Homo sapiens: one gene and its partners. The protein of the gene in region 1 purifies or fractionates together with the protein of each later gene. This does not show direct contact. Each region holds a gene or a part of one and is shown in the gene's direction. Other genes may lie near its edges.

Region 1 (4,301 bases):
CTTTTTGCAGACAATGCTGACCGCCATTTCCATGAGTGCGATCGCTACCAACGGTGTGGTCCCAGGTAAGGGGTGCCCGCCAGCCGCGGCCCTGAGTCCTGTTAGAGGAGTCTGTGTTTTGCCGCACGGCAACCGCGAGGAGGCCGCTTGGCGAGGCCGGGCCGGGGGCTGCCTGGGGGTCTCAGCCGGGCCTTCTGCGTGTTCTCCACTGGCTCCTCTGGCGTTTGAGCCGTGAGGTCACGGCTGTTTGGTTTTCTTCCCCATTTTGCTGCGTGGTGACCGTCTCTTGCCAGGGTAGGCAGTGCCCACCAGGCAGCGGGCTGGGGAGGGGGAGGCACGGGCGATTCCAGTGGCTCCTGTAGCCCAGCGTGTGCCATAGGCTGAGTTCTTGGAACCTGTATCTCACGAGGGAAGGTGAAGACAAAACACTGCCCTGACCTTGTTAATTAGTAATAAGTTAATTACAATACATAATAACTAAATAACTAGTGAACCGAGATGATATTAATTAGTAATAAGTTAATTACAATACGTAATAACTAGTAAACTGAGATGATACTGTTAATTAGTAATAAACGAATTACGATACGAAATAACTAGTGAACGGAGACGCTGCCACGTCTGCTTCTGAGTGCATGTGTGCTGCGCGTGTTAACGGCTGGGCTTGCTCAGCACCAGGTCCTCACGCAGCTGGTCCCCATCCCCACGGGGGCATCGCTTGGTGCTCAGCGGACTTCCCCGGCCTCAGGAGAGCACGAGGGCCTTCACCAGGGGTCTCCCTCCGCAGCCAAGGGACCAGTCTCTGCTTCACGATGGCCGCGTCCATTAGGACCCCTTCCACATGCCACACGCACTGCTCAGAGCAGGGAGAGCTGTGTTCTCCAGGCAGCCCTGGGGTTGCGCCCGGCTTTCCCGCCAGTGATAGCGTGCGTGGTTCACAGTACACGAGACGACTCCTGAACATCCTAGTTTCTCTTTTGCCTTTTTCATAAGCAAAACTTAGTGGAAGTGGGGGCTGGGGCTGCCACTGATGTACGCGGGACTTTTTCTGGGACCTGCTGGGGCCTCCTGCTCCCCAGAGAGCCTTATCCCTGATCTCACCTGGTCCTCATGTCCATGAGAGCGCGTGCTCTTGGTGTGGAACGTGTGCCGAGCCTCGGGAGGGGAGAGTTCACCGTGGAAGCGTCTCCATGTGCTGCTTTGCGGGTGGACGAGGGTCTACACGCTGCCTTCGCAGAGACAGGCCCTCCTTTGCCCGTGAATGGCAGCGCAGACCGCACCTCGGGTCCGAGTCCAAGTGCGCCCCTGACCCGCGGCTGCCGCCTTTGTCTCCGCAGCTGGCGGGTCCTACTACATGATATCGCGCTCGCTGGGACCCGAGTTTGGAGGCGCTGTCGGCCTCTGCTTCTACCTGGGCACGACGTTTGCAGGGGCCATGTATATTTTGGGGACCATCGAGATTTTTCTGGTAAGTGTGCTGCTTTGGAAGGGTTCCCACCCCACAGTCTGTGGCAGGATGCCAAGGGGCCCTGCCTGACCCACTCTGTGGCACACACAGCACACTGAGCCATCCTGACCCCACTGCCCTGGCTGCCCCTGGGCTCTCCTGGGCTCTGGCCATGGCGGAAGCCACTGGGCAGCGTCCACTCAGCAGCGACCTGTGTCCCCCTTGAGCACCATTGCTGCCCTCCGTGAGGCGTGCCTGGCATGAGCTGGGTAGACATCTGGACTGTAGATCTGAGCCCCGCGTAGGTGCAGTCCTGCAGTCGGAGCTGTTTTAGGAGCAGGGCTGGAACTCGGCTTAGAAGAACCTTTTGCCAGGATCCCAGCCTCTTCTCTGCCTGATCTGGGCACTTGGCCGAGGGTCCCAGAGCCCAGCAATGTACAACCAGGTGATGTCATCACCTTCTCAAAACAGGCATGCTCAAAGCATGTCCCACATCACCTGAGCACAGCTGAGAGCTGTGGCCTGAGTTCCTTGGTCCTCGTGGGGACGGGAACCGCCCTTCTCTGGCCGACGGGTGCTGTCCTTCCTGCTGAGGTTCTGAAACCCGCTGTCCCTGCAGGGCTTCAGAGACGCTCACCTGAGCCCCTGTCCCCAGTCTTTCTGCCCCTCCCTCTGCTGCCAGACCTGGTTCCTGGCCTCCTGGGTTCCTGAAGAGAGCCACATGGCCAAGAAGGTTCTGAAACCTTTCAGTGGGGTCGCACCCACACCCGTCCCAACCCGAGTCCCCTGGCCATGTCCCTCCATCTTTCCACCTGCCCCGGGTGCCGTGGCTGCCGCACTCCCAGGATCCCCTTTGGTGGGGGTGGGTGCCATGCCCTCCATGCCTGCTGCACCCCAGTCCTGTCCTGGTCTTGAGGGAGCTGAGCAGCACTGTCTCACGTCTCCGTCCCTTCCCTTGAATCTGGGCAGAACAGAGGTTGCCCCCCGCCGGCGTGGTCAGACCCTGTGTGTGTCCAGGACGTCCAGCCGGGGTGGGCCGAGCTCTCTGGGCAGCAGTCACATTCCTCTTAGCAGAAGGTGTTTCTTTTGAGTGCGGACATGCGGATGCCCCGGGTCCTGAAGTTGCTTTACTCTAAGGCTCCCGGGTGGTTCCTGGGAAACGTTCAGGCCCCTGGCTGTCCATGGCCTGTGCGCTGACCCCCGCGGGCTCCGTCCCTCGCCTGTGCGCTGACCCCCGCGGGCTCCGTCCCTCGCCTGTGCGCTGACCCCCGCGGGCTCCGTCCCTTGCCTGTGCGCTGACCCCCGCGGGCTCCGTCCAGCACGGATGCGTCCCGATGGCCCCGGCACCTGTTGGGAGGAGGCCCCTGTGTGGCGCTGGGGGCTTGCGGGAGGGACGGGCACTGGGGAGTTGTGTCCGGGGACGGCCTCCCGACCGGCCTTGTTCCCACAGACGTACATCTCCCCGGGTGCGGCCATCTTCCAGGCGGAGGCTGCAGGTGGCGAGGCGGCCGCCATGCTGCACAACATGCGTGTGTACGGCACGTGCACGCTCGTGCTCATGGCCCTGGTGGTCTTCGTGGGCGTCAAGTATGTCAACAAGCTGGCGCTGGTCTTCCTGGCCTGCGTCGTGCTGTCCATCCTGGCCATCTATGCCGGCGTCATCAAGTCTGCCTTCGACCCCCCGGACATCCCGTGAGTCTCGGGGCCTCTGAGCCGTGGGTGGGTGTGGGGCTGGGGCCAGGTCCCATGGGCTCTGCCCGCCTCTCGTCCATCATCCTTGACGCCGAGCTCCCCGCAAGGGGTGGGCTGGGTGTGACCGTGGCGGGAACCCCCGTGGGCTCGTTCTGGGGATTACAGGAAACCCAACGGTGAGGTGGGCCGAGGTACCCTCGTGGCCGGGTCTGAGCATGAAGACCCTCCTCAGTGGCAGGAGGGCTGGTGAGGGGTCTGGCAGGTTTCAGGGGTGGCCGGTGGCCCTGAGCACGGTCAGGTGCAGTGAGCGTCATGGGTGTGGCCCTGGCTGCTGCTGGGGCCTGGGTGTCTTCTCCCTCCCAGAGGTGCTTGGAGGGGCTCTTTTCTTGTCCTTTTGGAGGAGCAGCTGGGAGGCGGCCCAGGGTCCTGGAACATGGGAGTGGCCACCAGAGCCCGCAGGGAGCAGGTCCAGAAAGGGCCAGCAGCCAAGCCCCTTGAGGCTCCCGCGGTTTTGCCGTCTCTGCGTGGAGGGAGCCCCTGAAGGAACAGCCTCATAGAGGCCTCAAAACAGAGGGAGGCAGAACAGCTGCAACCCCACAAGCCCGTTTTAGGGAAGCACAGCTGCCCTCCCCCTCGGGGACCCGTCCTGAGACCCCCTGCCGATGCTTGACGCTACGGCCCTGTGTAGACTGTTTTCCACGTACAGGCCTGGCTTATACGTCGGGGGCGGCACTCCTGTGCTCTTGGCCGTTGGCACGTGGCACGAGGGTGGCTTGAACTCAGACACTGAGATTGTGACAGCTGACCCGGCCAGGACGCCGCCGAGGGCCTCGGGGAGGGAGCGGCTGCAGCGTGGCTGTGCTGGCGCGGGGGGAGGTTGCTGGGTTCCACCTCACTACTCGGCACCGCGCGGTGGAAAACGTGTGAATTGTTTACGTCTAGAACGCTTCATTTAGCACGTTTGGACCACGGGTGGCCGAACCATGGATGAGGGGACGGCTGTACAGTACAGCGTTCCTGCTGCAGCCTGGCCTGGTCCCCGGTCCCTGGTCCCCAGTCCCCGGTCCCCAGTGTGATCCCTGGCCCTTGCATTCCTGCTGCAGCCTGGCCTGGGCCCGGTCCCTGGCGTGATCTGTGGCCTTCCTGTCTTGGGAGGTGCAGG
Region 2 (4,143 bases), on another chromosome or scaffold:
CCCCGTCTCTACTAAAAATACAAAAATTAGCCAGGTGTGGTGGTGCACGGCTGTAGTCCCAGCTACTCAGGAGGCTGAGCCAGGAGAATCTCTTGGACCCAAGAGGCGGAGGTTGCAGTGAGCCGAGATGGTGCCGCTGCAGTCCAGCCTCAGTGGCAGAGCAAGACTCCATCTCAAAAAAAAAAAAAAAACAACACCCCACAAAAGAGGGATATTTACTAACAGGATTCCAGAGGGCAGGGAACCCAAGATCAGGAGATGGCCTCAGACCTCACAAGGCACTGGAAGAGGTCAAAAAGCAAGGCCCTCCCTCATTCCCTCTGGGGCCACAGGGTCCCCCATCTCCGCTTCCCACTGCACATCTGTGCTTCATCTGGGAGACCTGATACCCATGCTTTTCCACACACCTGGCCTGCTCCTGAGTGTGCAGAGTGTCAGTTCCAGCCAGTTCCCCAGGCTAATGGACAGGCCTCCGTTCCAAATTCCCAGGAAAGAGAATCACCATTGGCCACAGCCACAAGACCAGGTTCCCCCAACAGAAATGGGTGGGTTGGACTTCTCTCCCACCCTTGAAGCTGAAGGCTGGCATTGAGCCCTCAGCGTCTCAGACAGCGCTCAGGTATGGCAAGACAGTGTGCACCAGGGACAGGAAGTCCCGGGATTGGCACATTTTCTGGGATGACAGTTTTTTTGCCAATATTCTGGGAGAAATCCTACCATTTTTATATTAAACATGGCTATGTTATGGAGTAGCATCTAAAGTGATATGAACTAAAAAAAAAAGGCCAGGTGCGGTGGCTGAAGCCTATAATCCCAGCACTTTGGGAGGCCAAGGCGGGTGGATCATGAGATCAGGAGTTTGAGACCATCCTGTCCAACATAGTGAAACCCCGTCTCTACTAAAAATACAAAAATTAGCCGGGCATGGTGGCGCGTGCCTGTAGTCCCAGCTACTTGGTAGGCTGAGGCAGGAGAATCGCTTGAACCCAGGAGGCGGAGCTTGCAGTGAGCCGAGATCGCACCAATGCACTGTAGCCTGGGCAACAGAGCCAGACTCCGTCTCAAAAAAAACAAAACAAAAAACCCAAAAAACAAACCACGTGGCTTCAAGAAAATTACATGTTGTGAGTAACTTTGGCCTTGTCCCTAACCCCCGATGGACATGTCCATTCTGTCAACAGGGGTGTTTAGGTGCTAAGTCTGGGAAGCACTGATTAGGAGTCAGAGAACAGACATTTCCAACTGTTAAATTGTCATCGCTTGTATCAGCCATTATATAGTCAGTTACTGGGGGAATATGCACCCGTGATGGGCGTTAGGTGATAATGATTGGAAACTAGTGAAGCTGTGAGCTCACAGTTGCTGAATGGTTTCTTACTTTGCTTATCAAGTGGGTAATGAAGATGAGTGGATTAGAAAACACCAACCTGTTGGGCATGGTAGCTCATGCCTGTAATCCCAGAGCTTTGGGAGACTGAGGCAGGAGATCAAGACCAGCCTGGGCAACACAGTGAGACCGTGTCTCTACAAAAAATAAAAACATTTTAAAAAAGAAAGCCCTCAGCTGTTCATGATAGAAAAATAGAGTAAATAGCAAAATCTATACGTAATCAAATGCTAGATTTGTTCGGTGATATTTAGGTATTGTAGCTATACTTTTCAGCTATTAAAAAGCCTTGTTGTTTCTGAAATTCCTACTGGGAAAATAGCTTTGTTATTGCAAGTGTGAAGCCCCATTGCTTTATCCCCCACTCCCTTACCCCTTGAAACAATAGTTTTTATATTCATTTTTTGATGACTCTGGGTTTCTTAAGAACGGAACTGCCTTATCAGAGCAAAGCAGCTTGGCCTTCCGCCTGGCTCAGAGTCCTGCCCTGGGCTTGGGCTGATGAAACCAGCACTCCATGTAGTTTCATGAAGGCCTATGGTCATCCTGCTTGCCTGACCGAGCAAGGCGGCTAGTAAGTTTAGTCATTGAGGAAAGGGGTCAGAGAGTTCACAGAGCCAGTAAGGAGCCTATGGGACATCTGATCCCACCTCCTAAGCAATTCTGGAATCTTGTCTTCAGCATCCACTGCCCCTGTGTTTTCAGACTCCAGGAGCTCATTGTTTTGTGAGTGGCTTATAGTACTCTAGCCAGCTCTCTGAACCGGATGCTGGTTCTGCCATTAGAAACAACACAGAATATGACTAATAAAGAACTTCACTAGGGGGCTGGGTACAGTGGCTCATGCCTGTAATCTCAGCACTTTGGGAGGCCAAGGTGGGAGGATTGCTTGAGCCCAGAAGTTCCAGACAAACCTGGACAAGATAGCAAGACCCCATCTCTAAAAAATAAATAATTAATTAAAAAAATTTTTTTTAATTAGCCAGATGTGGTGGCTTGCATCTGTAGTCCAAGCTACTCAGGAGACTGAAGTGGGAGATCACTTGTGCCCGGGAGTTCAAGGCTACAGTGAGCCATGATTGTATCACTGCACTCTAGCCTGGGTGACAGAGCAAGACCCTGTCTCTGAAACAAAACAAAACAAACTCACCTATGGTGGATCCTTTTTCCCCAGGACAGACCTTTGGACATTTGAAAGGAGTTTCTGTATTCTTTTCATTCTTTTTTTTTTTTTTTTTTTTGAGACGGAGTTTCGCTCTCGTTGCCCAGGCTAGAGTGCAATGGTACGATCTCGGCTCACTGCAACCTCTGTCTCGTGGGTTCAAGCAATTTTCCTGACTCAGCCTCCTGAGTAGCTATTACAGGCATACACCACCACACCTGGCTAATTTTTGTATTTTTGGTAGAGACGGGGTTTTACCATGTTGGCCAGGCTGGTCTCGAACTCCTGACCTCAGGTCATCCTCCTGCCTTGGCCTCCCAAAGTGCTGGGATTACAGACATGAGCCACCGCACCCTGCCATCCATTATTTTCTTTGAAGAAAACATCACTTTCTTCAGTTCTTCCTTGTGTAACTTGGTTTTTAGCTTTTCACTATCTTGGACCCCTGAGTAATTTCAGTGTTACATTAAAAACAATGTTTAATCCGGTGCCTAGAGAAAAGTCAAGCTTACTACCCCAGATGCTGCCCAGCCAGTGCTAACTGTAGCATTTTCTCTTTTCTATGGCCACCAAGTGCAGGCCTGATTTGCTTGGCTGCTCAAGGCAGGACAGTGTGGGAGTTTGGAGCAATCCACCCCCACTCTTGGAACTGGGCTCTGAGCCACCTCCCCTGAGAGTCATCTCTGGGGTCAGAAGCATATCAGTCATGAGCCCAGCCACTCACTGTTTTAGTTCAGGCTGTGCTGTGCTGTTGGAAGGTGCAAGATCAGAGCCCCCAAAGCAGAGGACTCTCTCTGCCCAGTCCCTGTGGTCTCTTCATCCCTCGCCTTGAACAGGTGGAGGCCAGCCTCTCCTGACTGTCATCCCTATTGGCAGGTTACCCCAAAGGCCACCCCGAAGCAGGGAGCTTTGAGGCTGACCTGAAGCACTTGAAGGAGAAGGTGTCTGCGGGAGCCGATTTCATCATCACGCAGCTTTTCTTTGAGGCTGACACATTCTTCCGCTTTGTGAAGGCATGCACCGACATGGGCATCACTTGCCCCATCGTCCCCGGGATCTTTCCCATCCAGGTGAGGGGCCCAGGAGAGCCCATAAGCTCCCTCCACCCCACTCTCACCGCACCGTCCTCGCACAGGCTGGGGGCTCTGGGTGGAGTGCTGAGTTCGCTGAGTTCTTCCCAGATCTCCTCTCAGGTCCAGAACTTGCACAGCGTTGCTTGGCCACCCCATTTTGGTTACCTCTAATTTTCCCCCCAAAACCCAGCAACAGTGTCTGTTGAGGGGTTTGTTGTACTTTGGCCAACAAGCATCACCAAAAGGGATTCTAATTCTCATTACAAATCCTGCTTAAATCAGTGTTTCCCAAAGGTGGCTGTCATCAGAACCACTTGATAAGCTTTTTCAAAAAGTGGATCTCCAGGTCCCACCCCTGGAGGTTCTCACTCAGTAAATCTGAGGGAGGTCCTCGGAATGTGTGTTTTACTTCTTGAGCTTGGCAGGTGATTCGGATGATCAGTGCAGCATGGGAACAGCTGGGTTAGATGACACCATGTTACCAACAGACACATCTAGGGCTAAAAGGCTGGCTCAACCCA
Region 3 (4,301 bases), on another chromosome or scaffold:
TGTGTATGTGGATCCCTTATGATTTTTTACGTATAAGATTATGTCGTCTGTAAACAGGGATAATTTTACTTCTTCCTTTTCAAGCTGGATACGTCTCATTTCTTTTCCTTGCTGAATTGTGCTGGCTAGAACCTCAGGTACAGTGTTTAATAGAATTGGCAAAAACAGGGATTCTTGTCTTGTTCCTAATCTTAGTGGGAAAACTTTCAGACTCTCGCTAAGTTTGTTAGCTTTGGGTTTCTCACAGATGCCCTTAATCAGGATGAGAACATTCCCTTCTATTCCTCTTATCATTATCAAATATCCTTCTTTGTCTGTGGTAAGAATTCTTGTCTTAATGTCTAGGAATAGAAGGGAATGTCCTCATCCTGACTAAGGGCATCTATGAGAAACCCAAAGCTAACTTTTTAAAGTGTTTTTATCGTGAAAGAGTGTTAGTTGTTGCCAAATGCTTTTTCTGTGTCTGTTGAGCTATGTTTTCTCCCCATTATTCTATTAATTTGGTGTATTACATTGATTTTCATATATTGAACCAACTTTGCATTCCTGAAATAAATCCCACTTGGTTATATTGTAAAAGTCTTTGTATGTACTAGTGGCTTGAGTTTATTAGTATTCTGCTGAGGATTTTGTGTCTGTATTCATAACACACATTGGTCTGTAGCTTTCTTGGGTTGTCTTTACACTGGTCTCATACAAGCGGTTGGGAAGTGTTCCCTTCTCCAATTTGTTGTTGAGAGTTTATGAAGGATTTGTGTTATTTTTTTTTAAATGCTTGGTAGACTTCTCTAGTGAAGCCATCTGGTGTTAAGCTTTTCTTTGTGGGAAGTTTTTTGATTACTAATTCAATCTCTTTATCTGTAGATCTATTAATATTTTTTATTTCTTCACGAGTCAGTATTACTAGTTTGTGTTTCTAGGAATTTGTACATTTCATCTAGGTTTTCTAATTTTTTTAGCTTTATTTATTTTTTAACGTTTAGGTTCAGGGGTACATGTGCAGGTTTGTTATAAATTAGGTATCATGGGGGTTTGGTGTACAGATGATTTTGTCACCCAGGTAATAAACATAGTACCTAATAAGTAGTTTTTTGGATTTTGTTTGTTTGTTTTTGTTTTTTTTCTGAGACAGGGTCTTGTTCTGCCACCCAGGCTGGAGTGCAGTGGTGCAATCTCGGCTCACTGCAACCTCCGCCTCCCACGCTCAAGCGCCACCTGCCTCAGCCTCCTGAGTAGCTGGGACTACAGGTACACTCCACCATGACTGGCTAATTTTTGTATTTTTTGTAGAGGGTTTCACCATCTTGCCTAAGCTGGTCTTCAACTCCTGAGCTCAAGCAATCTGCTTGCCTCGGCCTCCCAAAGTGCTGGGATTACAGGCATGAGCCACTGCATCTGGCCAGATAGGTAGTTTTTTTGATCCTCTTTCTCCTCTCACCCTCTGTTCTCAAGTAGGCCCTGGTGTCTGTTGTTCCCTTCTTTATATGCATGTGTACCCAATGTTTGGCTCTCACTTATAAGTGAAACATGGTATTGGGTTTCTGTTTCTGCATTAGGTTGTTTAGGATTATGGCCTCCAGTTCCATCCATGTTGCTGCAGATGACATGATCTTGTTTTTTCATGGCTGCATAGTGTTCCATGGGCATATGTACTACATATTCTTTATTCAGTCTTCTGTTGACAGGCATTAGGCTGATTTTGTGTCTTTGCTATTGTGAATAGTGCTGCGATGAACATACCTGTGCGTGTGTCTTTATGGTAGAATGATGTATATTTCTTTGGGTATACACCCAATAATGGGATTGCTGGGTTGAATGGTACTTCTGTTTTAAGTTCTTTGAGAAATCACCTCCACTGCTTTCCACAATGGCTGAACTAATTTACATTCCCACAAGCAGTGTATAAGCATTCCCTTTTGTCTACAACCTCACCAGCATCTGTTATTTTTTGACTTTTTAATAATAGCCATTCTGACTGGTGGCTTTTCCAATTTGTTGGCTTACAGTTAATCATATATTCTCTTATAGTTATGTTTAGTTTTGGTTGTAATGTTTCCTCTTTCATTCCTAATTTAACTATTTGAGTCTTCTGTCTTTTTTTCTTCATCAGTCTACATAAAGGATTGTCAGTTTTGTCGATCTCTTCAAGGACCCAACTTTTGGTTTTGCTGGCCTTTTTTTTTTTTTATTTTTTTTTACAATTCTCTTTCATTTATTACCAGTCTAATCTATATTAATTCCTGCCTTCTACTTTTTTGGGTTTAGTTTGCTCCTCTTTATCTTAAGGTGGAAAATTGATTTATTAATTTGTTCATTTCTTTTTAAAGAAATTGATAGTTATAGCTATAAACTTCCCTCTAAGCACTACATTAACACATGCCATGATTTTTTGGCATGTTGTATTTTCATTTTCATTCATCTCAAAGAAATTTCTAATTTATCTTGTGATTTTTGTCTTTGACCCATTACTTATTTAAGAGTATGGGCTGGGGCATGGTGGCTCATGCCTGTAATCCTAGCACTTTGGGAGGCCGAGGTGAGCAGATCACTTGAGCTCAGGAGTTTGAGACCAGCCTGAGCAACACAGTGATATCCCATCTCTACAAAACTTTAAAAAATAATTTAGCTGGGCATGGTGGCACACACCTGTAGTCCCAGCTACTTGGGGGGCTGAGAAGGGAGGATTACATGAGCCCCAGAGGTCTAAGCTGCAGTGAGCTGTGATCATGCCATTGCACTCCAGCCTGGGTGCCAGAATAAGACCCTATCTCAAAAAAAAAAAAAAAAGTTGTTTAATTTCCGCATATTTATAAATTTCCTAAATGTCCTTCTGTTATTGATTTCTAATTTTATTTTGTTGTGGTTGGAAAACATATTTTGTATGATTTCAGTCTTAAATTATTGAAGTTATTTTTCCTAAGATAGATCAAGCCTGCAAAATGTTCCATGTGCACTTGATAAGATTGAGTATTCTGCTATTGTTGCGCGGAGTGTTTTGTATAGATGTGTTTGATCTAATTGGTTTATAATGTTGTTGAAGTCCTCTTTCTTTTGTTGAAATTCTGTCAAATTGTATTATCAATTGTTGGAAGTGAGGTATGTCCAACTATTATTATTGAATTGTCTTTTTCTTCCTTCAGTTCTGCCACTTTTATGTATTTGGGGGCTTTGTTGTTAGGCATATGTACGTTTGTAATTGTTATAGCTTCTTGATAGATTGACCCTTTTATCATTATCAAATATCCTTCTTTGTCTGTAGTAAGAATTCTTGTTTTTATGTCTGTTTTGCCTGATATTATTAATAGTATTAAAGCCACTCCAGTTATCTTTTGGTTATTGTTTGCATGGTATATTTATTTAAATCCTTTTACTTCCAACCTATCCATTTATACTTAATGTAATAATTGATAAGATGGGATTTATGTCTGCCATTTTGCTATTTGTTTTCTGTCTGTCTAATGTCTTTTTTCCCTGTTTCCCCATTACTGCATTGTTTTGTACTAAGTAGATCTTTCCTAGTGTATCACTTTTATTCACTTGTTATTTCTTTTATATTTTTTTTTCTTAGCAGTTGCCCTGAGGATTACAATCAGCACCTTGGTTTATAATAATCGTGTTTGGATCAATAACAACTTAATTCCAACTTGATTTATGTGGTTGTCTTTAAATTGGATAAGAGTAAAAAGAGTTACTAACAAAAATGTGTTTATACTTAAAAAAAAAAATCTGTCTAGGTGGTTACCTTTGCCGATGCTCTTCCTTCCTCTGTGTGGATTCTAGCTAGTGTCTAGGATCCTAATTCGGCCTTAAAGACTCCCTTTCGTGTTTCCTTTAGGGCAGGTGTGCTGGGGACGAATGCTCTGTGTCTGTTTATCTGAAAATCTCTTAATTTCTCCTTTACTTTGAAAAGATAATTTTGCTAGTTAAGAATTCTTAGGTGACAGCTTTTGTTCTTTGAGCACTTTGATGCCATCCTGTTGCCTTCTGGCTTCTATTTCTGATGAAAAATGAGCTGTTAATCTTATAGAGCAGTGGTCCCCAACCTTTTTGCCACCAGAGACTGGTTTTGTTGAAGACAATTTTTCGATGGACTGGGGCGGAGGGGAGGCACTGGTTTGGGGATGAAACTGTTCCACCTCTTCATTAGGCATTAGATTCTCATAAGGAGCACACAACCTAGATCCCCTGCGTGCGCAGTTCACAATACGGTTTGAGCTCCTATGAGGATCTGATGCTGCCGGTGATCTGACAGGAGAGGGAACCTGATCAGGCAGTGATGCTCGCCGGGAGCCGCTCACCTT
Region 4 (4,301 bases), 250 kb from region 1:
TGCCTGGCCCTCTGCCATTCTGCATTACGCCTGATTTTTGGAAGTGTGGTTTTGAGTGTTGGCAGCCCAGTGTCACAGAGGACCATATCTTAGAAATGACCCCAGGCGAGAGCTGTGGCTTTCCTGTTCTATTTGAAGGCAGCTGTTTTAGGGTGCAGCGGGTCCAGGGACACAGAGTGGGCCATGAGCAAGGGATGGGTGCTGGGGCCTGGCAGAGCTGGCAGGCTCTGTGACCCCGGCACTTAGGAAGGGGTGGGCACCGTGACCCTGGCACTAAATAAGGAAGGGATGGGTGCTGTGACCCTGGCACTTAGTGAGGAAGGGGTGGGCACTGTGACCCCGGCACTTAGTGAGGAAGGGGTGGGCACTGTGACCCCGGCACTTAGTGAGGAAGGGGTGGGCACTGTGACCCTGGCACTTAGTGAGGAAGGGGTGGGCACTGTGACCCCGGCACTTAGTAAGGAAGGGGTGGGCACTGTGACCCTGGCACTTAGTAAGGAAGGGGTGGGTGCTGGGGCCCTGGCACTTAGGAAAGGATGGGTGCTGGGGCCCGGCAGAGCCGGCAGGCACTGTGACCCCAGCACTTAGGAAGGGGTGGGTGCTGTGACCCCGGCACTTAGGAAGGGGTGGGCACTGTGACCCTGGCACTAAATAAGGAAGGGATGGGTGCTGTGACCCTGGCACTTAGTGAGGAAGGGGTGGGCACTGTGACCCCGGCACTTAGTGAGGAAGGGGTGGGCACTGTGACCCCGGCACTTAGTGAGGAAGGGGGGTGGGCGCTGTGACCCCGGCACTTAGGAAGGGGTGGGCGCTGTGACCCTGGCTCTTAGTGAGCAAGGGGTGGGCGCTGTGACCCCAGCACTTAGGAAGGGGTGGGCACTGTGACCCCGGCACTTAGTGACAATGTTGGAGCCTCACCTCCCAGATCCATAAAGCAGGGATCATGAAAACCAACCGAAGGCAGCAGGGCCTACGGGGCACTCAGGTAAGGGAGGCGTCCACCTGGGCAGGGAGACATCCCTCGCACTGGCTGTCCCCACACCGCCCCATCCCCAGCACGCTCTGGTCTGTGACGTCCACCTGATGTGGCACCCGTCAGCAGGTGCTGGACACAGTGGCTCTCCCTTGTCTCCCCAGATGTCAAGAATATGAACACGTGGCTGCTGTTCCTCCCCCTGTTCCCGGTGCAGGTGCAGACCCTGATAGTCGTGATCATCGGGATGCTCGTGCTCCTGCTGGACTTTCTTGGCTTGGTGCACCTGGGCCAGCTGCTCATCTTCCACATCTACCTGAGTATGTCCCCCACCCTAAGCCCCCGATCCCCCCAAGGCTGGGTGGTCAGAGCTGCTCATCTTACACCTCTACTTGAGTATGTCCCTAACCCTGAGCCCCCCACGCCTGGGGCCAGAGTCTTTGTCCCCCGTGTGCGCATGTGTTCAGGGTCAGCCTCTCCCAGAAGTGAGATCATGGACAAAAAGGGCAAATCACAGGAAGAAATTAAATCCATGAGGACCCAGCAGGCCCAGCAAGAAGCTGAACTCACGCCGAGACCTGCAGGAGTGGTGCCAGGTGCTTGAAGTAACAAGTTTAAAATGTTCAGAGACAATGGAATGGAATCTATTAGGCAAGAACAGGACATTATGAAATAAGGACAGGTGGACTTCCAAAAACACAAGTAGAAATTCTAACAATGAAATATATTACAGGCAGGTCACCCACTAACCAAACAACTGAAGCGAGAGCTGGTGGTCTTGCTTGGTCTCACAGTGGGCACAGCGGTAGGCGGTCAGTCATGTTGCTGAACGACGGAGGGTAAACTCCCCAGCCCCAAGGAAACCTGTGTTGGAAGTAACAACAACCTCCCTGCTCCTGGCACCAGCCGTTTTGGTCATGGTGGGCCAGCTGCAAAGCGTCTTCCATTCTCTGGGCAGTGGTGGCCCCGAGGCTGTGGCCTCTCAGGGGGTTTCTGTGGACACGGGCAGCAGAGTGTGTCCAGGCCAGCCCCCAAGAATGCCCTGCTCCTGACAGCTTGGCCAACCCCTGGTCAGGGCAGAGGGAGTTGGGTGGGTCAGGCTCTGGGCTCACCTCCATCTCCAGAGCATCCCCTGCCTGCAGTTGTGGCAAGAACGCCCAGCTCAGAATGAACACACCCCACCAAGAGCCTCCTTGTTCATAACCACAGGTTACCCTACAAACCACTGTCCCCACACAACCCTGGGGATGTTTTAAAACACACACCTCTAACGCATATCTTACAGTCACTGTTGTCTTGCCTGAGGGTTGAATTTTTTTTAATGAAAGTGCAATGAAAATCACTGGATTAAATCCTACGGACACAGAGCTGAATGTGCTGTTTTCAGAGTTTTAATTTTGGATGTCAAGGCCAGTGCCTGTATAGAATAGGTGCTTAGGATATGTTTACTGAATGGAATGGAACTAAAGCCTCAGGTGTAACTTCATGGAGACACGCGTCTGCCTTGTAGAATGTTACAGGCTGCCTGTTCCTGAAGCTGAAACCCTTAAGAGTGAGAAGTCATTTGGGCCTCCTTCAAAACTCTCCACCCTTCTTAGAATCAGGAATATTTTTAAAAGTACTTTCTAGAATTATCTAGCAATCTCTCTTATATTTAAATATTTTTGGGTTTACCACCTATGAAGGCTTTTCTGGAGTTTCACTCCACCCAGAATTCATCATCTCTCCTTATCAGGAAATCTCTCACCCTCAGATGCTTAGAGTCAGGGTGAGTCCCCCCACAACAGGAGAATCGGCCGAGGTTGGGCCGAGGCCACATGGTCTCATCCACATGTGCCGCAGATTAAGGGATGCTCAAACTGCCCAGTAATACAAAGTCTGCACTTGTCATTTTTTTCCAACTTTGTGTACAAAATGTTTCCCTGGGTTAAAATAGTCAATGCCCACTGTGTGCTGAGCACGTGGGGTGCTGCAGGCCCTTGTGCTGCAGAGAAGCTGGCCCTTGCCTCAGGCGGCAGAGCAGGGAAGTGCAGTGGGCCTGAAGCCATGCGGGGCTGGGAGGGATGACCTGGTCTGTCCTCTGAGCCAGGCACTGCACTTGGAATGGGCTTCTTGAACGCAAAGCCCAGACCAAGTGTGGCAGAAACATGAAAGGACAGGCAGTCGGCTGCTGTGGGCGGGAGGCAGGACGCCCAGGCCTGTCCCCACCCCCGTGACCCAGAGCCTCCCTGGGCAGTGACTCCAGGATGTCCAGGAGCTTCTTCTCTACCTCACAGGACTGGAGAGGCTGTGGTGAGACGCATCCTGTGAAGGCTGGGCTGGCCACAGGCAGCTCCCCAGGGCGCCCACCGCCATCTGCTCCTCACTGCAAATAGGCCTCTGTGGGCGGCCGCCCCAGTCTCCAGAAATAGTCACAAGACATCGGCTCTCACGGTGTTGGTGTTTAGGGAAAGAAGCATGGAGAGTTTGGCCCCTCCATGGAAGCTCGTGGCTGAAATAGGTGCAGAGCCCATTTTATTAACGTTTGTTAAGACGGCTCTTTTAGATAAACGGGTGTATCAGGTTTTGCTTTGCTTCCCTGGGCTGCTTTGCTGCCTGCAGGACAGGCCAGGTGGGTAGGGCTCTGGCCAGCCTGCTGAGCTGTCCTGTGGGCACTGTGCAGGGCTGCAGGGATGGTGACCTGTCTCAGCCCCATCAGAGGCTGTGCTGAGTGGCACTCACAGCACTCGTGTTCACCTCCTGGGCCTGGGGCTCTCAGCACGCTCAGGAGTGTGTGGTCCCAGGACCCGCTAGCCAGCACCTCGGGGTGGCCGCCCCACTGCGTGGTCCTCCGACTGTGGGGTCTCTGTGCATCCCCCAAGGTGCGCCCCACCCAGTGTCCAGATGTGGGGAACCCCACAGGCCATCTGGACCCTCAGACAGAGCGGCCCCTCCTGAGCTGGTCTCTTACCCCTGCCAGCGATCCCAGGGGATCTGGAGCAACCTCTCAAGCTGCATGGTATAGGGGACCCAGGTCTGTGAGAGACAGCTCATCTCTGACACCACTAACAATGCAGCTCAATGAGGCCGTGGCAGGCGGCAGGGGCGTGGGTCAGCACTGTTCCCCAGGTCGCAGCTGCAGACCCCTCCTGCTGACCATCAGCTAGCTGCAGAACTGGGCCCACAAGGCACCTGCACTCATCCTGACCTCACAGGGCCTGCATGGTGGGCGGAGCAGTTCTCCCTGTGCAGGGGCCGGATCAGTGGCACTGGCCACTCTGCTGAGCTGTCCTGTGGGCGCCGTGCAAAGCCGCAGGGCTGGTATCTTGTCCTGTTCCTCCTTTTCCCT
Region 5 (4,301 bases), about 140 Mb from region 1:
TAATACGCTGCGGGAGCGGAGCCAGGTGAGGGGCTCGGCGCCGCCCCGGGCGACCCCTGGGGGCGGCACTGGAGAAGCCGCCCGTCCTCATAAGGGATTGAACTTGCATCCACTCCTCTCCGGCCGGCTTGGTCGCTGGCTGCGCTCCACCCGATTCTCGGGATCATTGGACCGTTTGCGCGAAACCAGAGTGGCCGATTAAGGGATGGGGCTCCGAGCACCGGGGGTGGTGGCGACTGTGGGCGAGGGGAGGTGGGACCGACCCCCACCCCTACACTCAAAAAAGGCCGGGGCCTCCTTCGAGCTTCCGGTGAATTTCGGGCGATTTCCGCGGGTGTCGGGGGTCCCGGGAGGAGGCAGTCACAGATCCACCCCTGCAGCCAGCCTCCTAGGCGCCGGCTCCGGCACGCTTCGCCGGTCTGTAGATTTCCTCTTCGATTTCTCCCCAGCTCCCAGCATCTGTGACTTCACTGTTACCCTCCCTATCCCCGCATCACCCAACCGCACCTGTCTGCGGGACTTAGGTGTGCGCGCGGGGCTCATGCGTGTCCTCCCTGCTGGCCACCCCCACGGCCCACACAAGTTGCACGGGCTCGCCACGCCCCGCCAACACGTGCGCGGACGCACGCACGCACTCCTCGCACGTGGGCTTACGCGAATACCAGCTTTCACTGCCACTCGCTCGCGGCCAGATTCACAGGCCTGTTCCGGTCCACTCGCAGCTCCCCTCTGCCGCTCCCTCCGCCGGGCTCAGGAGTACTCGTAGCTGATTGTGCGCGCCTGAGGGTCCCAGATCGCGGCCGCCCAGGACCAGGCGAGGACTCCGGAGCCTCCTCTCACCTCTCCCACCTGCGCCCCGGGCTGGGCCGGGTCGCCTGGGGGGCGGCCTGAGCGAGGCGCGGGGCCAGGAGCGCTGGAGCGACTGCCGCTCTAAGTGCCGGGCGGGCAGGACTCTACGATCCTTGGGCCAGAGGTCCGGATGGTCCCGGGACTCCGTCTCAAGGGTCGGCGACCCCTCAACCCAGAAGCCTCGAGCAGGCGGACAGGCAGAGCTGCCCAGTGGCCGAGGCGCGGCAGGGCTCCGCGTTGGGCGAGTGAGTGAGCCTCTATAGGACAGCAGGACTGGGACTCCAGTGGCACCAGCGGCCCCTTCCTCCCGCAGGAAGTGAAAGCCTCGAGCGCCCTGGCTCTCAACCCCCAGAGATACAGGCTTTTGGCGCCGTCGTGATCACAATGTGCCCAGCGATCTAGGGTCAGAGATTTGGAGGTGACCAAACTATCTGACACTCTAACAAGTCCTGTCTCCTCTGGCAGATGGAAAGCTATAGGCTCTGCCAGATGCCAGGGTGCCCTTATGTGTGAGGAAACTACAATAGTAAAAAACACAAGTTTCTCCAACTCCAGGAGCTTTTATTCAAAATATATCAATGCCTAACTCTGCTCCTAGGACTGTATTTTGAAACACCCCCAGGTGATTTTGATAGCTGATTGAGAGAAACTTACTATATAACTCCTTTGAGAACCTCATCTCATTTGCTCTTCCCACCATTGCTGTTGGCTAGGTACTAACATGCCTCTCTTATAACAGCTTCACAGAGGTCAAGTGACTTGCTCAAGTTCACAGAGCAAGTAAGAGAGATTCTAACCCCTGTCTAACTCCAGAATGTGTGCTTTTAATTTCTTGGCACTTGGAACTTTAAAAGCTTGAGGACAGGAGAGGGGAGTTGCCTCTGCTGGGATTTTGCTTCTGCTGGGATGGGGCAAGGGTGGGGTTCCTTCCCTTTTAGGACCTTACATGTGGGGAAAGTCTTCTGTGGCTCCTCATTTCTGAGCAGTCCCCGCAGCGCAAACTTGGCCAGTTATCCTTTTGGAGATTGAGTTCCCCCAGCTCCGTTTCCTCCTATCACAATCACTGCATTTCCATGTAGATTCTGCTGTGTCTAAGAATACAGTGGCTGAGGGCTGGCCATCCCTGTGCCCTTCTCCATGGCAGCCCCAGAATGGTGCTGGTGACTCCCGATACACCTGGAATGCTAGGTTTCTGGGTTCTGCTCATATCACTGCCACCTGTGAGCCTTGAGTGAGCCACTGGCAGTTCCGGAGCTTCCTTCTCCCTGGAGTAATCTGAGATACTCACACTCTCTGCTTCTGGGAGCAAGTATGAGTATTAATTACCAGCCCACCCCAGAACCAGTGAGGAGGTGGCTCTAGGAGTGCTCCATGAGAGTGTGTGATGGGATAACACACCCCCTGGAAAGACCAGAAGGGACTCAGGAATGAAGTGGCTGGCCAGAGCCCCACACCTTCAGCTAGGTGGGAGATGGCTACACATCAGCCCCTTGGGAGCCCTGGAGACTTAGTTGGCCCTGCTTGGAGGCTGTGGGAGCTGGATCCCTCCCCGCTGCATCCCTTCCATTTTTCTCCGTCTCAGACAGAGCAGCCTTGTTCTCTTCTCCTTAGTCACAGACCATTGTCTGGCACGGAGTTCTAGGGGTGAGAAGTGTCCCGGGACTTGGATGCCCCGCAAAGGCCCAATCTGGCATGACTCCTAAATTAATAATGTATTTAGCTGTGGGAAGAGATTCTTGCAAGCCAAGGGCCCAGAGAAGATGTCCCTGTGAATGTGTCACTGCACAACCTGGCACCAAAAGGGTTACCAAGAACAGCAGCCATCTTGCTGCAGAGGATGCTTTGTTCCCAGCTGAGGAGTTGAATAAATTCATTCTAGGGCTGGTAGAATTCTCATTGAAAAGCCTCCTTTGCCACTTTAGGGGGCTTTGTCTGCACCTCTTCCCCCAGTTCCACAGAAGATGCCTTCAGTCCTTGAATTTTGGCTCAGGAGTTCTGACTCTGGGGGCAGGGAGGAAGGGGCCATTTCTTTAGGAAAGGAGTCTCAGCTTGCTCACTGTGGTCAGATGAAATGTGATTTATCTCTTGGTTTCTGGTACCTCAGACCTCTGAGACCTGAGGTGTATTTTGTCTTTGGAGATGAGTCCACCCCTGCCCCCTCTTAGTCCGTTTTCTTCTCTGTGCCCACTCCCCTCCTTCTCTCCCGGCCCATCCCTAGGGGCTCGGGTGACATTCTAACTTCTCACGGGTACTCAGCCCCTTTCCCTCTGTTTTCTCCACAGCAAGCCCCGCCCAACACGGACTGGCGTTTCTCTCAGGCCCAGAGACCCGGCACCAGCGGGTAGGTGACTGATTCTCCAGCCCACCCTCTTCTCTGCGGCATTTTCTCAGGGATGACGTGGGAGGAGATGGGGGAGGGCCCAGCATTTGCTACAGATGGCTTCTCCCTCAGTTTGAGATCCCAGGGAGGTCTTGGTGTGCGGGGGGCTGGCACACAGACCCCGGAAGGAAGAGGCGACTGCCCTGACTGTTCAGGAAGCTCAATTCACATGCTTGCCCCTTCCCTCCTCGCCACGACCGGCACCTTTTCCTATCCCCTGAGGGCACTGTGGAACCAAAGGATGGTCTTAAGCTGGTCTCTGGGTGAAAGCGAGGCTTTCTATGCCCATGTACTGCCTAACCCCCTCCCCTGAGTTGAGCTGGGCTCCATTATGACCTGGGGCTCAGGCAGAAAAGCATTTGACCGGAGGAGGCGGTCCGCACTCAGCGCCTCCTCCAGAGCCTCCAGAGCCGAGGCTGACTGCAGCCTGGGGAGAGTGGAGGCAGCACAGCTGGAGGTGGAACTGAGGAAGGACTGGGCGGGGCATGGAGCAGGCCCCCTTCTCCGGCCCCTCCTCCCACTGTCCTCTGCCCCTACTTGTCCTGCTCTCTGTCTGTGGGGTCTCCGTGTCTCTGCCCCTTTTTCTTGAGTTTCCGTCTTTGCCACTTTCTCTTACCTCTCAGTCCTTCCCTCAGTCTCTATCTCGCTTTGCAATCTCTGCCTCTCCCTCTCTTCTCCATCTCTGTCTTAGCTTCCGTCTTGATTGCTGCACCTCAGCCTCAGTCCCTTTCATTTGTCTACTTGCATTGATCTGTGCCGCCCACTGTGCCTGCCATGGCATAAGTGCTCAATAAATGTGGAGTGAGTAACTACACGGGACCCTTAGTCTCTTTCTCCTTCTCTATCTCTGCCTCCCTGTCCTTGTCCTGGACCTCTTTTCTGTTTCTCCTTTCACCGTTTCCTAGCGCCTTGTGTTCTTCTATCCCCAGCCTCTATGTTTCTCTGTCTCTCACTATTTCTGCTTTCCTCTCTGTTCTTTGTCTCTCTTTGTCTCTGTCTCTGTATATCTTTCTTTGTCTCTGTCTCTGGTCTCTGTGCCTGTTGTCTTTTTCTGCCTCTTTCTCTGTTACTC

The links.
Region 2: the proteins of SLC12A7 (region 1) and MTHFR purify together in Homo sapiens (affinity purification with mass spectrometry; one large-scale study listed by BioGRID and IntAct). This does not show direct contact.
Region 3: the proteins of SLC12A7 (region 1) and SLC41A3 purify together in Homo sapiens (co-immunoprecipitation; one large-scale study listed by IntAct). This does not show direct contact.
Region 4: the proteins of SLC12A7 (region 1) and ZDHHC11 purify together in Homo sapiens (co-immunoprecipitation; one large-scale study listed by IntAct). This does not show direct contact.
Region 5: the proteins of SLC12A7 (region 1) and PCDHGB5 purify together in Homo sapiens (co-immunoprecipitation; one large-scale study listed by IntAct). This does not show direct contact.

Annotation. Positions count from the first base shown.
Region 1 is NC_000005.10:1,084,070-1,088,370, reverse strand, and holds part of SLC12A7 (solute carrier family 12 member 7), read left to right. Parts: intron 1-10; coding exon 11-65; intron 66-1,337; coding exon 1,338-1,468; intron 1,469-2,897; coding exon 2,898-3,139; intron 3,140-4,301. UniProt on the Homo sapiens protein: Mediates electroneutral potassium-chloride cotransport when activated by cell swelling. May mediate K(+) uptake into Deiters' cells in the cochlea and contribute to K(+) recycling in the inner ear.
Region 2 is NC_000001.11:11,795,682-11,799,824, reverse strand, and holds part of MTHFR (methylenetetrahydrofolate reductase (NADPH)), read left to right. Parts: intron 1-3,425; coding exon 3,426-3,619; intron 3,620-4,143. UniProt on the Homo sapiens protein: Catalyzes the conversion of 5,10-methylenetetrahydrofolate to 5-methyltetrahydrofolate, a cosubstrate for homocysteine remethylation to methionine. Represents a key regulatory connection between the folate and methionine cycles.
Region 3 is NC_000003.12:126,070,259-126,074,559, reverse strand, and holds part of SLC41A3 (solute carrier family 41 member 3), read left to right. Parts: intron 1-4,301. UniProt on the Homo sapiens protein: Na(+)/Mg(2+) ion exchanger that acts as a predominant Mg(2+) efflux system at the mitochondrial inner membrane.
Region 4 is NC_000005.10:837,487-841,787, reverse strand, and holds part of ZDHHC11 (palmitoyltransferase ZDHHC11), read left to right. Parts: exon of another isoform or gene 1-95; coding exon of another isoform or gene 96-105; exon of another isoform or gene 106-943; coding exon of another isoform or gene 944-985; intron 986-1,137; coding exon 1,138-1,293; coding exon of another isoform or gene 1,294-1,369; exon of another isoform or gene 1,370-1,440; coding exon of another isoform or gene 1,441-1,569; exon of another isoform or gene 1,570-1,706; coding exon of another isoform or gene 1,707-1,816; exon of another isoform or gene 1,817-2,346; intron 2,347-3,249; coding exon of another isoform or gene 3,250-3,283; exon of another isoform or gene 3,284-4,301. UniProt on the Homo sapiens protein: Endoplasmic reticulum-localized palmitoyltransferase that could catalyze the addition of palmitate onto various protein substrates and be involved in a variety of cellular processes.
Region 5 is NC_000005.10:141,491,676-141,495,976, forward strand, and holds part of PCDHGB5 (protocadherin gamma-B5 isoform 1 precursor), read left to right. Parts: coding exon of another isoform or gene 1-202; intron 203-3,131; coding exon 3,132-3,190; intron 3,191-4,301. Other genes in the region: PCDHGA1 (protocadherin gamma-A1 isoform 1 precursor), read left to right, coding at 3,132-3,190; PCDHGA2 (protocadherin gamma-A2 isoform 1 precursor), read left to right, coding at 3,132-3,190; PCDHGA3 (protocadherin gamma-A3 isoform 1 precursor), read left to right, coding at 3,132-3,190; PCDHGB1 (protocadherin gamma-B1 isoform 1 precursor), read left to right, coding at 3,132-3,190; PCDHGA4 (protocadherin gamma-A4 isoform 1 precursor), read left to right, coding at 3,132-3,190; PCDHGB2 (protocadherin gamma-B2 isoform 1 precursor), read left to right, coding at 3,132-3,190; PCDHGA5 (protocadherin gamma-A5 isoform 1 precursor), read left to right, coding at 3,132-3,190; PCDHGB3 (protocadherin gamma-B3 isoform 1 precursor), read left to right, coding at 3,132-3,190; PCDHGA6 (protocadherin gamma-A6 isoform 1 precursor), read left to right, coding at 3,132-3,190; PCDHGA7 (protocadherin gamma-A7 isoform 1 precursor), read left to right, coding at 3,132-3,190; and 11 more. UniProt on the Homo sapiens protein: Potential calcium-dependent cell-adhesion protein. May be involved in the establishment and maintenance of specific neuronal connections in the brain.